2 separate regions of the Homo sapiens genome follow, and region 1 is linked to region 2. A link means that fine-mapping ties the variant in region 2 to the expression of a gene that starts in the linked region. Tissue or cell type: thyroid. Region 2 holds a variant in brackets; the other region holds the start of a gene. All regions are shown on one strand. Distances are between the middles of the regions.

Evidence for each region. PIP is the estimated chance that this variant, and not a neighbour inherited with it, causes the effect.
Region 1: RPS6 starts here. The variant in region 2 is fine-mapped to the expression of RPS6 in thyroid (GTEx, PIP 0.97).

Annotation. Positions count from the first base shown.
Region 1 is chr9:19,376,622-19,384,720 of GRCh38, reverse strand. RPS6 (ribosomal protein S6) reads left to right here and starts at 4,485. Exons shown (of 6, transcript NM_001010.3): 1 at 4,485-4,531; 2 at 5,103-5,234; 3 at 5,803-6,013; 4 at 6,207-6,353; 5 at 8,070-8,099. The coding sequence starts at 4,526. It also overlaps the pseudogene NDUFA5P3. RefSeq lists an enhancer at 3,971-5,170.
Region 2 is chr9:19,238,866-19,246,972 of GRCh38, reverse strand. The region is part of intron 1 of DENND4C (DENN domain containing 4C); the gene reads right to left. Among named protein-coding and RNA genes, the nearest start is that of DENND4C, 12 kb to the right of the region's middle. The variant A/T (reference allele first, on the strand shown) is at 4,101.

The DNA of each region.
Region 1 (8,099 bases), 140 kb before region 2:
CATAAATGAACAAGCTGATGCTAAAATTCATGTGCAATTGAAAAGGATCCTTAAGAACTAAACCCATCTTGAAAAAAAACAAAGTTGGAGTACTCTTACTTCCTTATTTTGATGCTTGCTACAAAGCTATAGCACTGGCATAAGGATAGGCACATGGACCATGGAAATAGAAGTGACAGTCCAGAAATAAACCTATAAATTTATGGCAATTAATTTTCAACAAGAGTGTCAAGACCATTCGATGAGGGATGAATAGTCTCTTCAACAAATAGTGCTGGAACAACTGGACATCTATCTGCAAAATAATTAAGCTGGAGTCCCAACCTCACACAATTATTTAAGAATAAACTCAAAACGGATCAATAACCTAAATATAAAAACTAAGACCATAACATAGGGTAAGTCTTTAAGATTAGATTTTAAAACATAGGGGTAAACTTTATGACACTGGATTTGGCAACGTATTTTTAAATGAAACCAAAAGCATGATCTACAACAATTTTTAAATTATATAAATTGGGCTTTAAAATTAAAAACTGTAACATTATTAAGAAAGCGAAAAGTCTACAGAATGGGAGAAAATATTTGCACATCACGTATCTAATAAGAGTTTAGTCTCCTGAATATATATTAAAAAACCCGATTTTAAAATGGACAAATGCTTTGGGAGGCTGAGGCAGGAGGATCACTCAAGGCCAGGAATTCAAGACCAGCCTGGGCAACATATGGAGCCCTTATCTCTACACACACACGCGCACGCACACACACACACACACACACACACACACACACACACACAAATCTTTTTTTTTTTTTCTCAATTAGCCAGAGTCATGACGGGTGTGCTGAAGAGAGACCACTGGCCTTGTGGGATTGGCTGTATGCGAGAGTCCACAGGAGAGGCTAAGAATATTGTATACAAAGATTTTTTTATGTTCTTGAGCAAATCCCTAAAAATGTAGCATATAGAAAGTATACAGAACAGATTACAAATGAGACACTGGCTATGGTTAAAGCAGAACCAGATGTTAAAAAATTAGAAGACCAGCCGGGCGCAGTGGCTCACTCCTGTAATCCCAGCACATTGGGAGGCCAAGGCAGGCGGATCACCTGAGGTCAGGAGTTTGAGACCAGCCTGGCCAACATGCCGAAACCCTGTCTCTACTAAAAATACAAAAATTAGCCGGGCATGGTGGTGCATGCCTGTAGTCCTGGCTACTTGGGAGGCTGAGGCAGGAGAATCGCTTGAACCCAGGAGGTGGAGGTTGCAGTGAGCCGAGATCATGCTACTGCACTTCAGCCTGGGCAACAGAGTGAGACTCTGTCTCAAAAATTAATTAATTAATTAATTAAATAAAAATAAAAAATCAGAAGACCAACTTCAAGGTGGTCAAATAGAAGAGGCGATTCTGCAGGCTAAAAATGAACTAAGTCTGGCAAGAAAAATGATGCAGTGGAAACCATGGGAGAGACTCCTGCCAATCAGTGGAAATGGCCAATATAATTATTAAATGACTTTGGTAGGTTGATGGGAAACTGATGTAATTAAATATTCTGTTATATTAAGAGTGTGGGCCAGGTGCAGTGGCTCACACCTGTAATCCCAGCACTTTGGGAGGCAAGGCAGAAGGATCATTTGAGGTCAGGAGTTTGAGACCATCCTGGCCAACATGGTGAAACCCCATCTCTACTAAAAATACAAAAATTAGCCAGGCATGGTGGCACGCACCTGTAATCCCAGCTACTCAGGAGGCTGTGGCGGGAGAATCGCTTGAACCCGGGAGGCAGAGGTTGCAGCGAGCCGAGATCGTGCCATTGCACTCCAGCCTGGGCGACAGAGCAAGACTCCATCTCAAAAAAAAAAAAAAAAAAAAAAGGCAAAGAACCCTTGTGTACTGTTGGTGGGACTGTAAATTGGTACAGCCATATGTAAAACAGTATAGAGGTTCCTCAAAAAATTCAAAATAGAACTAACGTGATCCAGCAGTCCCACTTCTGGATAGATAGCCAAAAGAATTGAAAACAGGGTCTGTCTCTAAGAGATATTTGCACACCCATGTTCATATCAGCATTATTTACAACAGCCAAGAGGTGGAAACAACCAAAATGTCCATTGACAGACGAATGGTTAAACAAAATGTAGTATATACATGCAACAGAGTATTATTCAGCCTTAAAAGAGAAGGAAATCCTGTCACATGCTATAACATGGATGAACCTTGAGAACATTATGTTAAATGACATAAGCCAGTCACAAAAAGACAACTACTACTGTTTGATTCCATTTATATGAGATGCTTAGTGAAAATCATAGAGACAGAAAGTAGAATGGTTACCAAAAGCCGTGGGTAGGGGGAAAGGAGTTGTTTAATGAGTATGAAGTTCCCATTTCGCAAGATGAAAAAGTTCTGGAGATCTATTTTACAACAATGTTAATATATTTAACATTACAGAAGTGTACACTTCAAAATGGTTAAGATGATACATTTTGTGTTATATGTTTTTTACCCACAATTAAAAACGCATTAAAATTTTTTTTTAAATGAGACAGGGTGACACTATGTTTGCCCAGGCTGATCTCAAACTCCTGGCCTCAAGAGATCCTCCCATCTCAGCGTCCTAAAGCGTCTGGATTACTGGTGTGAGCCACTGCATTTGGCCACCCTAAAATATTTTTAAAAGGAAAAACAAACAAAAAAAACTAGCCCATAGTTCTAGACTTTCTCTTTGCCTCACATTAATTTACTCCCACTACTTCAATAAAAATAACAGGGGGAGCTAAGAGCTTGTACAGACTTTTCTCTAAAGAAGATATACAAATGGCCAACAAACACATTAAAACATGCTCAACATCATTAGTCATTAGGGAAATGCAAATCAAAACCACAATGAGTCTCAGCTACTCCAGAGGCTGAGACAGGAGGATGCTGGAGGCCAAGAGTTCCAGACCAACAGGATCTCACTTTGAGCAACAAAGCGAGACCCTGTCCCTACAATAAATTTTTAAAAAATTAAAAAAATAACAAGTGTTGGCCATGATTTTGATAAAGTGCGGTCCTCATACATTGCCGGTGGGAATGTAAAATGGTTCAGCTGCTTTGGAATACAGTTTCAGTTTCTCCCTGAGTTGAGAATAGAACTACTATATGACCCAGCAATTTCACTCTTAGGTATATACCTAAAATAATTTAAAACAAGTACTCAAACATAGAAGAACTATTTACAGTAGTTAAAAGGCAGAAACAACCCAAATGTCTATTTATGGAGGAATGGATAAACAAACTGCAGTCTATATCTACACTAGAATATTGAGCCATAAAAGCAGTGAAGTACTGATACATGCTACGACTCAAAAGATTAGAAGACAGATACAAAAGGTCAATATTGTATGATTCCATTTTTATGAAGTAGGTACATCCACTGAGACAGAACACAGATTGGTGGTTGCCAGGCCTGGTCGAAATGGGGAAGGGGCAGCAACTGCTTTAACAGGGTACAGGGTTTTCTTTTAGGATGATGAAAATGTTTTGGAACTGTATCGATAGAGATGGTGGTTGTACAGCATTGTGAATGTACTAAATGCCACTGAATTGTTCACTTTAAAATGACTAGTTATGTCAATTTCACCTCAACAAAAAAATGACACACAGTACTCAGATTTTAAAAAGCATCATTTCACCAAGATTCCATGAATTAATGTGAGATGATCAAAGAGGATTCAGTAGAATCGTTCAACTTCGAATGTAAAACAGTCCTAAACTCAAACCTTTGTGACACTAAAGTGGGGAGATGGTATGTGATAGTTTTAGATAGTAAAAATTATTCTTGTTTACTTGGTCTCGAACTCGAACTTTTTTGAGGCGGAGTCTCTCTCTGTCGCCTGGGCTGCAGTGCAGTGGTGCGATCTGGACTCATTGCAACCTCCGCCTCTTGGGCTCAAGCGATTGTCGTGCCTCAGCCTCCCTAGTAACTGGGACTACAGTCGCCCCCCACCACGCCTGGCTATTTTACCTATTTTTGGCTATTTTACCTATTTTTATTAGAGACGGAGTTTCGCCATGTTGGCCAGGCTGGTCTCGAACTCCTGACCTAAGATGATCCGCCCGCCTCGGCCTCCCAAAGTGCTGGGATTACAGGCGTGAGCCACCGCGCCCGGCCTTGCCCTCCTATTTTGGTACCGTCAGATGCAAAGTGCCTGGGACAGAAGTGGGGCTCCGCTGGCGCCCAGCTCCAAAACCCAGGCAGCGTGGAAAAGACTAGACAGGGAAGGGGTTAGCCCTCAGAATTACACGCGGGTTTGCCTTACCAGACTACCACCACTGGCACAACCTCAGACCCACACCCAACCGACTTTACCTCCCAGGCCCTGATTAATCTCGCCCGGAAGTACCGCCCACCCATGCTCACTTCCGCTATCCCGTACTTCTGCTCATCTCGCGAGAACTGAAAGCGCCTATGTGACCTGCGCTAAGCGGAAGTTGGCCCTCTTTTCCGTGGCGCCTCGGAGGCGTTCAGCTGCTTCAAGATGAAGGTAGGTGATGGTGGCGAGTGTTAGACTGGGTTTGGGGAACGTGAATCGAGTCCCAGAACGCGGCATTGCCTCAGTTCCAGCACTCCAGGATCCTGGCTTTAGGTGGAGAAGGGTCTCAAGTAGGAGAAGGCTCGCCTTTCTGGGGCATGGAGCTTTTTGGCCGAACGGATGGCAGGCGATTGCGGCTGGAGCCGCGGCGGGCCGGGAGCGCCATGGTGGCGTCCCCGCGCCCAGCCGGGACGGATGCGGCGTGTTGCCCAGTTTGCGGCAGGCCTGTGGTGCGGCTCTTGACCCCGGCTTTCTTGCTTCGGGAGGGTGAACGGCTGCGGAGTGCCCTCGCCCCCAGAGTCATTCCGCGGGGCTTGAGGGGAAAACGTCCTGCTGAGTGCGGCGCTTCTTGACTGCTACTCTGCTTTCACGTGCTTTTAGTGAGTACAGTCGGCATCTTATATTTCCTGCTTGTGTGGAGGCAACATGAAAGGCTTTTTGCAGTGGAATTAACTTTGTAGATGGCTCTACAATTACCTGTATAGATAGTTTCGTAAACTATTTCCCCCCTTTTAATCCTTAGCTGAACATCTCCTTCCCAGCCACTGGCTGCCAGAAACTCATTGAAGTGGACGATGAACGCAAACTTCGTACTTTCTATGAGAAGCGTATGGCCACAGAAGTTGCTGCTGACGCTCTGGGTGAAGAATGGAAGGTAAAAGTTGACAAATTGTTGCAGGTATTTAAGTCAGAGACGGTAAACGCCATTGGTAACTGGTATTTGGAATGGGGTTCAGACTCCGGGTTCTGGCTTCTGACCTTTGGTAAGTTGCTTCCGAATGCCACTTTATAAAGTTAGAGGTATTACCTTGGAGGGGGGGACGTAGAGTAAGCCATAAAATATACGTAAAGTTTACATCAACATAATTCTTGCCCTGCATCATGCATTTGGCAATATGTCACATAGCTGTCCTCATAATCCCCAAAGTGCCAAAAAGGGTTGTATCTGATTTGTTTGTTGCTGTTTGATATTTTATCTTCTTAGTGCTGTTATCTCTAATAAAACATCGGTTAGAAATGCGACTTGAAAGACATTTGATAATTGAACTTGACAAGTTGGGAATATAGACAAAACTCACTGAACAGAGAAAACGTGCTTAAGTTCAAATTGGTTTTCATAATTATACTTTCTCATATAGGTGTGTTCACAGAGGTCACAATCCTGTACTGTATAATTTTGGAATAGAAATAGTAAATGTGTCATTCATTGTATGCTCTTGCAGGGTTATGTGGTCCGAATCAGTGGTGGGAACGACAAACAAGGTTTCCCCATGAAGCAGGGTGTCTTGACCCATGGCCGTGTCCGCCTGCTACTGAGTAAGGGGCATTCCTGTTACAGACCAAGGAGAACTGGAGAAAGAAAGAGAAAATCAGTTCGTGGTTGCATTGTGGATGCAAATCTGAGCGTTCTCAACTTGGTTATTGTAAAAAAAGGTGAGGGTTACTTGTGTTCAATTTTCGTTGAAATTGATTTAAAGCCAGTTGTCCAAATGCTTATTCATTTGCAGTATCCAGACTTACAGACCAATGGATTTGTTTCTCTACCATCAATTCAACATTAAACATTCTGATTTAGGATTCTTAAGGAAGTTGTTGAATTAAAATCTCTTCAACTGTTTCTTCTAAGGAGAGAAGGATATTCCTGGACTGACTGATACTACAGTGCCTCGCCGCCTGGGCCCCAAAAGAGCTAGCAGAATCCGCAAACTTTTCAATCTCTCTAAAGAAGATGATGTCCGCCAGTATGTTGTAAGAAAGCCCTTAAATAAAGAAGGTAGGAGGGATTATGCAATTAGGGCTTGCTTAATTTTGGTAATTTGTCTATCATTTTGTGTGCATATCAGAAGATAAATATGTGCCTTTGGAAGGCCTTAGCACTATTCACTTGGAGTTTTTACAGAAAATATTTGGGGGTGGCCAGCATACCCAGTTGGTGTTAATCCTTGCTTATTATATCCAGTGCCTTGTAGAGTGCAGTAATTTCGTTGAAAATCTGCTTGTGAATCTTTGATGTATACATTATCCAAAAATAACCTGACTTTAAGGTCATTGCTATCTGGTTTAGGAGTCACATGTTTGAGAATTCTGGGACTATTAGCACCACACACTTTGTAATTTTATATCAGATGTTCTAAATTATTAATATTTTTTAAGAGATGAGGTCACACTGTTGCCCAGGCTGGTCTTGAACCCTTGAGCTCAAGTGATGCTCCCACTTTGGCTTCCCAAAGTGCTGGGATTATGGGCGTGAGCCACCACACCCAGCCCAAAATTATTTTTTGGCTTACAAAAGAAGTTGCTTTAAACTTCTGTTTCATCTGTAGGATATGGATAACAATAGTTAAGAGTTGTGAGAATTAGAAGTTAGAGACCTTACTCAGAATACTAGGGAGCAGGTGTTAGGGATTTTGGAGCTTTACCTTTTAAGAACTTTTGTCCATATAGTAGACAACATACTCACCAGTGAGGACCTCAAATAGCAATATTTCTGTGGTGAAATTTGGGGATATTTATGTTAAATAAACAGCATGTCAGTCAAGGTTGGGTTTTCCTGACAAAATTTGAAAGAATTTCTCTGGATTTTGGTTTTCAGGACTGGTGTGACTTAACATACATGGCATAGATAGTATACGTCTGTTAAGTCAGTAATTACACTTACTTGAGCACAGGTACTGTTCAAGGTGCTGAGAATACAGTATAGACAAATTCCTACCCTTATGAAGCTGATGTTGCAAAAAAAAAAAAAAAAGCAATTGACAAATAGGTGGCAGTTGCCCATAATCATAGCCCTGGAAATAATCCGTATAATACAAGCGTGGTCTGGTTGATGGGTATTTTTAGATGGTTCTTATGTCTATAGTAGGAGGCTTAACATTTTAGCAGAATCTGAACATCTGAGCATTTAGCCTAAGGCAGTTAACTCCTACAAAGTGTCCATGAAACAAATACATCTGAAAAGGCCTATGCTCCAATGCAGATCTGTAATCCATGAGCAGTTTTGGAGTACAGATCAGATTAATGAAGATACTTTAACAACATGCCACCTAATCTGATGTTAATAGTTAACGTTACCCCTGAATTGGCAGGAATTGTCAAAGGAAATAGAGATGCAAGCTTACATCAAATTTAAAAGTATGGCAGGATGATTATGTAGATAATGTGTTAAGTGGTTTTCACAGACAAATTAACTATGCACAGTTATATATTAACATAATGCCACTGTATTTTAGTAAAACTGGAAGGTAGTAAAAGTTAGCCTGGTTATTTTTCAGGACTTGGTTTCCCTTATATTTTTATAATATTTAACCAATCTTCTAGATTTCTGTGGAGGGGCAAAAAGCATTTTAGAATAGTTCTGATTTGATTTTAAAGGCCTCATTATAGGTTTTCATAGATGCTGTTAAGCTTACGTTTATTTCTGATGTTTTTAAAGTAGATGTGGATTCTAACAAAACAAATATTGAAATGATTGAGTCCTTTGAATTTTTAGGTAAGAAACCTAGGACCAAAGCACCCAAGA
Region 2 (8,107 bases):
AATGGAATCTTAGAGGGTAGAGATACTGAGAATGAGCAATTCTTTCTGACAAATTTTGCTATAAATGAGAAGGAAAGGTGTGTGTGAGAAATGAGCTGTTTTTGTTTTTTTCCTTTTGCCATCCCTATTGAAGTTAGAGAATTAAGAGTTATAGCATGTTCATATGCTAAGAAAAATGATTCGCCAGGAAAAATAATACAGGGGATGTGCAGGTCTAGATAAAATAAAAATAAAACAAACAAACAAAAACAAAAATATCGAAGATAACCCAGAAGCAAAATCCTTAAATACACAAGAAGTCACAACATAGATGAACATAGATGAGTTGGCTTAAAAAAAAAAAAGTGGTCTGCAAGTAGGAATCATTTTCGCTGCAGAGAATAAAAACACTATGTGCAATACTTAAATCAATAAATAAACAAACAAACATGCCCAGTGCAGTGGCTCACACCTGCAATCCCAACACTTTGGGAAGCCAAGGTGGGAGGATTGCTTGACATAGCGAGACCTCATCTCTATTATAAAAAATAATAATAATTTTCTAAAAAACAGCTAAGAGTCTAGAAGGAAAGAGATTACATAGTCTTCTTAGCAAACAAAGTAGAAGGACAAGCAGACACAGCAATGGTGTAGGCACAATAGATATGTGTGGTCATAAATTTAAAGTGAGACGAGCTAGCGTATTTGTTTTCTCCAGCCACACTCCACTGCTCAGGTTCAAGGAATTACAGAGTTGACAAAGAACTGAGTGTAATCGGGGTTGAAGTTTTGCCTTGATTACAATGAAGGAAGAGAAGAACAAGAGTTTTATCACTCAACACCACAGAATGGTACATACAGAACACTAATACTTACTGAAATTTTTATTAAATGAATCAATATAATTGGATAAGTTAAGAAGAGAATATATGAGGAGAATGATGGACAGTGAAAAAATGGCGTAGCTACTGGCCTGGAGGTCTTGATGGAATCCAAGAAATGTCCAGTGAGAGAACTGAAAAAATAAAAAAAAAATTGGATTCCAAGAAATATCAAAATAGGGTACTGGAGTATGTGAGTTAGTAGAAAAGGAAGTGGAGGTCAGAGTTAGATGCTTACAATTTTTTTTTTTTTTTTTGAGACGGAGTCTCGCTCTGTCGTCCAGGCTGGAGTGCAATGGCATGATCTCTGCTCACCGCAACCTCCACCTCCTGGGTTCAAGCGATTCTCCCGCCTCAGCCTTCTGAGTAGCTGGGATTACAAGCACATGCCACCACGCCTGGCTAGTTTTTTGTATTTTTAGTAGAGACGGGGTTTCACCACGTTGGCCAGGCTAATCTCGAACCCCTGACTTCGTGATCCACCCGCCTCGGCCTTCCAAAGTGCTGGGATTACAGGAGTGAGCCACCGCGCCCGGCCCAATGCTTACAATTTTTTAAGTTACAGATCATGGTGATAAAGTCTAGGGTAATGGTTCTCCGTCCTGACTATACATTGGAGCCACCTGGAACACATTTTTTTTTTTTTGAGACTGAGTCTTACTCTGTCGCCCAGGCAGGAGTGCAGTAGCGCCATCTTGGCTCACTGCAAGCTCCGCCTCCCGGGTTCACACCATTCTCCTGCCTCAGCCTCCCGAGTAGCTGGGACTACAGGTGCCTCCCACCATGCCCAGCTAATTTTTGTGTTTTTAGTAGAGGCGGGGTTTCACCTTGTTAGCCAGGATGGTCTCGATCTCCTGACCTCGTGATCTGCCCGCCTCGGCCTCCCAAAGTGCTGGGATTACAGGCGTGAGCCACCGCACCTGGCCCTGGAACACTTTTTTAAAAAAATCAGACCAATAAAATATGAATTTCTGAAGGTGGCCCACTACTATCAATATTTTTTAAGCTGCCCATTTAGAATATACAGCCAGAATTGAGAACTACTAGTCTAGGGTGTGATTATGCATGCAGACAGCTAAGGTAGGTTAGAAAAGAAACCTGCGATCTGCAAACTGAAGAACTTCTAATAAAGTTTTTTTCTATTATTCTTGATATGAATAAAAACATGAGCTGTGCTCAAAGTATTTCACATCTAGTAATTCATTTCATATTCATAACAACCCAGTAAGGGAGGTCTAGCATTATCCCTTTGTGAGGAAAATTAGACACAGATGGGGAGAACGAAACTGTACTGAATTAAGAGTCCCAGGTTATACATAAAGTTAAAGGTGTATATTATAAACCCTAAGGCAACTACTTTTTTTTTTTTTTTTGAGGTGGGGTCTCGCTCTGTCACCCAGGCTGGAGTGCAGTGGCACGATCTCCGCTCACTGCAACCTCCACCTCCCGGGTTCAAGCGATTCTCCTGCCTCAGCCTCCCAAGTAGCTGAGACTACAGTCACGTGCAACCACGCCCGGCTAATTTTTTGTATTTTTAGGACAGATGGGGTTTCACTGTGTTAGCCAGGATGGTCTCGATCTCTTGACCTCATGCTCCTCCCGCCTCAGCCTCCCAAAGTGCTGGGATTACAGGTGTGAGCCACCACGCCCGGCCAAGGCAACTACTTTTAAAAATCAAGACATATAGCTAATCAGCCAATGTGAAGATAAATGGAATACTAAAATATACTCAAGTAATCCAAAAAGGAACAAACAAGAGATAGGACAAATTAAAAACAAGCAGGCCAGGCGAGAAGGCTCACGCCTGTAATCCCAGCACTTTGGGAGGCCAAGGTGGGTGGATGACCTGAGGTCAGTAGTTCAAGACCAGCCTGGCTAACATGGCAAAATCCCATCTCTACTCAAAATACAAAATTTAGCCAGGTGTGATGGTGTGCACCTGTAATCCCAGCTACTCAGGAGGCTGAGGCAGGAGAATCGCTTAAACCCGGGAGGCGGAGGCGGCAGTGAGCCGAGATTGCGCCACTGCACTTCAGCCTGGGCGGCAGAGTAAGACTCCATCTCAAAAAAAGAAGAAAAAAGACCAGCCTGGACAACACAGTAAGACCCTGACTATACAAAAAAATTTTTAAAAATTACCCAGATGTGGTGGTGCAAACCCACAGTCCCAGCTACTCAGGAGGCTAAGGCAGGAAGATAATTGAGCCTGGAAGGTCGAGGCTGCAGTGAGCGACGACTGTGCCACTGTACTCCAGTCTGGGTGACAGAGCTAGACTTCGTCTCAAAAACAAACAAAAAAATCTGTATGTAAATATTCATAGCAGCACTACTCAGAATAGCCAAAAGGTAGAAGCAATGTAAATGCCTATCAAGTCATGATAAACAAAATGTGGTGTTTCTATAGAACGTAGTATTATTCAGCCATAAAAAGGAATGAAGTACTACTGGACCTAGAAAGCATTATGCTAAGTCGAAGAAGCTGGACACAAAAGGTCACACATTGCCTAAGTCCACTTGTAGGAATATCCACAATAGGCAAATCCACAGAGAGAGAAAACAGATTACTGGGCAGCAGGGACTAGGAGACTGGGAATGGGGAGAGACTGCTTAACGGGTACAGCGTTTCCTTTTAGGATGATGAAAACGTTTGGGAACATTTAGTTTGTGGTAATACTTGCATGACATTGTGAATGTGCCGAACACCACTGAATTACATATTTTAAGTGGTTAAAATGGCAAATTTCATGTTATGTTAATTTTGTCAGAATTTTTTAAAAAAGGAATGAAGGAGTGATACATACTACAACATAGGTGAACCTGAAAAACACTATCCTAAATGAAAGAAGCCAGTTACAAAAGATCACATATTGTATGACTTCATTTCTATGAAATGTCCAAAATAGGTAAATCTATAAAGTCAGAAAATAAATTAGTGGTTATCTAGGGCTAGGGGTCCAGGAGAGAGGGATTGGAGAGTGACTGCTAATGTATACAATGGTTCTTTCTGGGGTGATTAAAATCCTTTAAAATTAGATTATGCTAATGATTGCAAAACTGTAAATCTACTGGAAAACATCAAGATACCCCCCTTTAAATTGGTGAATTTTATGGTGTGTAAATTATATCTCAATAAAGCTAACTTTAAAAAGGAAAAACTTAGGCCAGGCATGGTGGCTTACACCTGTAATCCCAGCACTTTGGGAAGCTGAGGCAGGTGGATCATGAGGTCAGGAGATCGAG[A/T]CTAGCCTAGCCAACATGGTGAAACCCCATCTCTACTAAAAATACAAAAAATGGCCGGGCATGGTGGCATGCGCCTATAGTCCCAGCTACTCAGAAGGCTGAGGCAGGACAATCACTTCAACCCAGGAGGCAGAGGTTGCAGTGAGCCGAGATCTCGCCATTGCACTCCAGCCTGGTTAACAAATGGAGACTCCGTCTCAAAAACAAAAAAAAAAAAAGAAAGAAATAGCAATGAGATACCAATCCACACCTATTAGAATAGCTACAATCAAAAAAACTGACAATACCAAATACGAATGAAAATGCGAACAGGAACTCTAACATTCACTGCTGATGGAAATACAAAATAAAACAGCCCTTTTGGAAGGCAGTTTGGCAGTTTCTTACAAAGCTAAATACAGGCCTACCATATGATCCAGCAATCACATTGCTGAGGTATTTGATTATCCAAATTGATTTAAAAACTTATAGTTACACAAAACCTGCACACAATGATTATAAGCAGCTTTATTCGTAATCACCAAAACCTGGAACCAAGGATGTCCTTTGACAGGTGAATGGATAAACAAACTGGAATATATCCATACAATGGATTATTTAGCAATAAAAATAAATGAGCTAGCAAACCACAAAATGATGTAAAGGACCCTTAAATGTATATTGCTAAGTGAAAGAAGCTAGTCCAGAAAGGCTACATACTATATGATTTCAATTATAAGACATCCCAGAAAAGGCAAAACTATAGAAATAGTACAAAACAGTAGTTGCCAAGGGCTTGGGGAAAGGCAGAAAGGGCTTAAGAGCTGAAATAGAATAATCTCATGGAGGTGAAACTATTTCTCACAATAATTTAACGGTGGATACATGTTGCCCAGGCTGGTCTCAAACTCCTGGGCTCAAGCAATCCGCCCATCTCAGATTCCCAAAGCAGTGGGATTACAAGCATGAGCCACCACACCCAACCTATGTCATACTTTTAAACATCATTTGAGTGCACTCCTTCTACTTACTTTTTTTTTTTAAGATGAGGTCTTACTGTGTTGCCCAGGCTGGTCCCAATCTCCTGAGCTCAAGCGATCGTCCCACCTCAGCCTCCCAATGTGCTTAGATTACAGGCGAGAGTCACCGTTCTACTTATGTTTTTTAAAAGCTACCTAAAAACAGCCTCAGGCAGTTTCCTTCAGGAGGTAGTCCAGACAGATCCACGTGAGTATTGCCCCTGAAGACCTTCCAGTAGGACAAGACGTGAAGGTAGAAGACACTGATATTGATAATCCTGACCTTGTGTGGGCCCTAGACTAATGTGTGCGCTTATGTTTTCATTTCCGACAAAAAAGTTTAAAAAGTAAAAAAAAAAAGAAAAACGAAAAAAAAAGGCCAGATGCAGTGGCACGCAACTCAGGAGGCTGAGGCCAGAGAATCACTTGAGCCCAGGAGTTGGAGGCCAGCCTAAGCAACATAGCGAGACTCTATCTCTAAAAAAAAAATTCATTTTTTAAATAGAAAAAAGCTTACAGAATAAGGATTTAAAGAATAATATTTCTGTACACCTGTAAAATGCGTTTGTATTTAAGTGTTGTTACGAGAGTCAAAAAACAACAAACATTTTAAAGCTTCTAAAGTCAAAAGGTTACAATAAGCTAATTTACTATTGATCAAAGAAAAAAATTTGATGAATTTAGTGTAGCCTAACTGTACATTGTTCATAAAGTGTACAGTAGGGCACAGTAATATCCTAGGCCTTCACATTCATTCACCACCCCTCATTCAGTGACTCGCCCAGAGCAACTTCCACTCCTGCAAGGTCCTCTCGTGGTAAGTGCCCTATTATAGGTGTACCACGTTTATCTTTCATATCTGTCCTGTTCTGTGTTCCGTTCTGTTCTGCGTTCCATTCTGTTCTGTGTTCTGTTGTGTTCTGTCACTCTGTCGCCTAGGCTGGAGTGCAGTGGCGTGATCTCGGCTCACTGCAACCTCTGCCTCCTGGGTTCAATTCTCCTACTTCAGCCTCCCAAATAGCTTGGATTACAGGCGTCCACCACCATACCAGGCTAATTTTTGAGTTTTTAGTAGAGACACAGTTTCACCATGTTGGCCAGGCAGGCCTCAAATTCCTGACCTCAAGTGATCTGCCTGCCTCAGCCTCCCAAAGTGCTGGGATTACAGGTGTGAGCAACCATGCCTGGCCTTTTTTTTTTTTGTTTTTTGAGATGAAATCTCACTCTGTTGCCCAAGCTGGAGTGAAGTGGCATGATCTCGGCTCACTGCAACCTCCGTGTCCCAGGTTCAAGTGATTCTCCTGCCTCAGCCTCGCAAGTAGCTGGGACTACAGGCACACACCACTATGCCAGGCTAATTTTTGTATTTTTAGTAGAGATGGGGTTTCACTATGTTGACCAGGCTGGTCTCGAACTCCTGACCTCGTGATCCACCCACTTCAGCCTCCCAGAGTGCTGGGATTACAAGTGTGAGCCACTGTGCCTGGTTCCCGGCCCTTTTATACCGTATTTTTATTGTATCTTTTCTATGTTTAGATACACAAATATTCACCATTATGCTATAGCTGCCTAGAGTATCAGTACAGTAATATGCTGTACAGGTTTGTAGCCTAGAAGCAATAGGCTATAGGCTATAGCCTACAAGAGTAGCATGCTACACCATCTAGGATCATGTAAGTACACTATATGATGCTTGCACAATAAAGAAATTGCCCAATGATGCATTCCTCAGAATGTATCCCCCTAGTTAAATTACTTATGACTGTGTACATCTAACAAGAGAGTATCAAAGTGCATGCAGCAAAAACTGACATACCTGAAAGGAGAAATAAACAGCTCCACAATCACAGGGAGTTCAACACTCCTCACTGATGCAATAATTCACAGAACAAGTAAACAGAAAATTATTAAAAATATGTAAGATCTGAAGAACATTATCAACCAACTTGACATAATTGTTATTTATAGAACACTGCACCCAACAACAGCAAGATAAACCATCTTTTCAAGCACACATAGAACATTCACCAAGATAAACCATATGCTGGACCGTAAAACAAGCATGGAAATATTTTAAAGAATATAAATTGGCTGGGCACGGTGGCTCACGCCTGTAATCACAGTACTTTGGGAGGCCAAGGCAGGCGTACACCTCAGGTCAAGAGTTCAAGACTAGCCTGGCCAACACGATGAAACCCCATCTCTACTAAAAACACAAAAATTAGCCGGGCATGGTGGTGTGCGCTTGTAATCCCAGCTACTCGGGAGGCTGAGACAGGAGAACTGCTTGAATCTGGGAGGTGGAGGTTGCAGTGAGTAACTTTTGTATTTTTAGTAGAGATGGGGAGTGCCACTGCACTCCAGCCTGGGTGACACAGCGAGACTCCATCTTAAAAAAAAAAAAGAATATAAATTATGCAGCATGTTCTCTGACTACAATGGAATTAAACTTGAGATCATTAACATAAAGATACTATATAAAATTCTCCAGTATTTAGAAATTAAATAATAGTCTCCTAAATAACCCCTGATCAAAAAAGAAACTGCAAAAGAAATTAAACAATATTTTGAACTGAATGAAAAGAAGAAATCAATTTATGAGATGTGGCTAAAACAGTATTTAGAAGGAAATTCATAGCTTTAAGCACCTGTATTAGAAAATAAGAGAGTTCTAAAATTAAAGACATAAATGTCCACCTCAAGACGCTCGGGGAAAAAAAGCAGACTAAATCAAGGGGAAGTAGAGGGAAAAAACATAAAATGCAGAAATCAATAAAATTTAAAATAAACAAGAAACAATAAATATCAGTATCTGTAGATTAAGAAAAAAGCAAGAGGCTGGAATTACCAATATGAGCAATGATAGAAGGCATATCGTTACAGGTCCTCTAGACATTAAAAAAAGAACAAAGGAATATTATAGGCTAGGCAAGGTGGCTCCTGCCTGCAATCCCAGCACTTTGGGAGGCCGAGGTGGGTGGATCACCTGAGGTCAAGAGTTCGAGACCA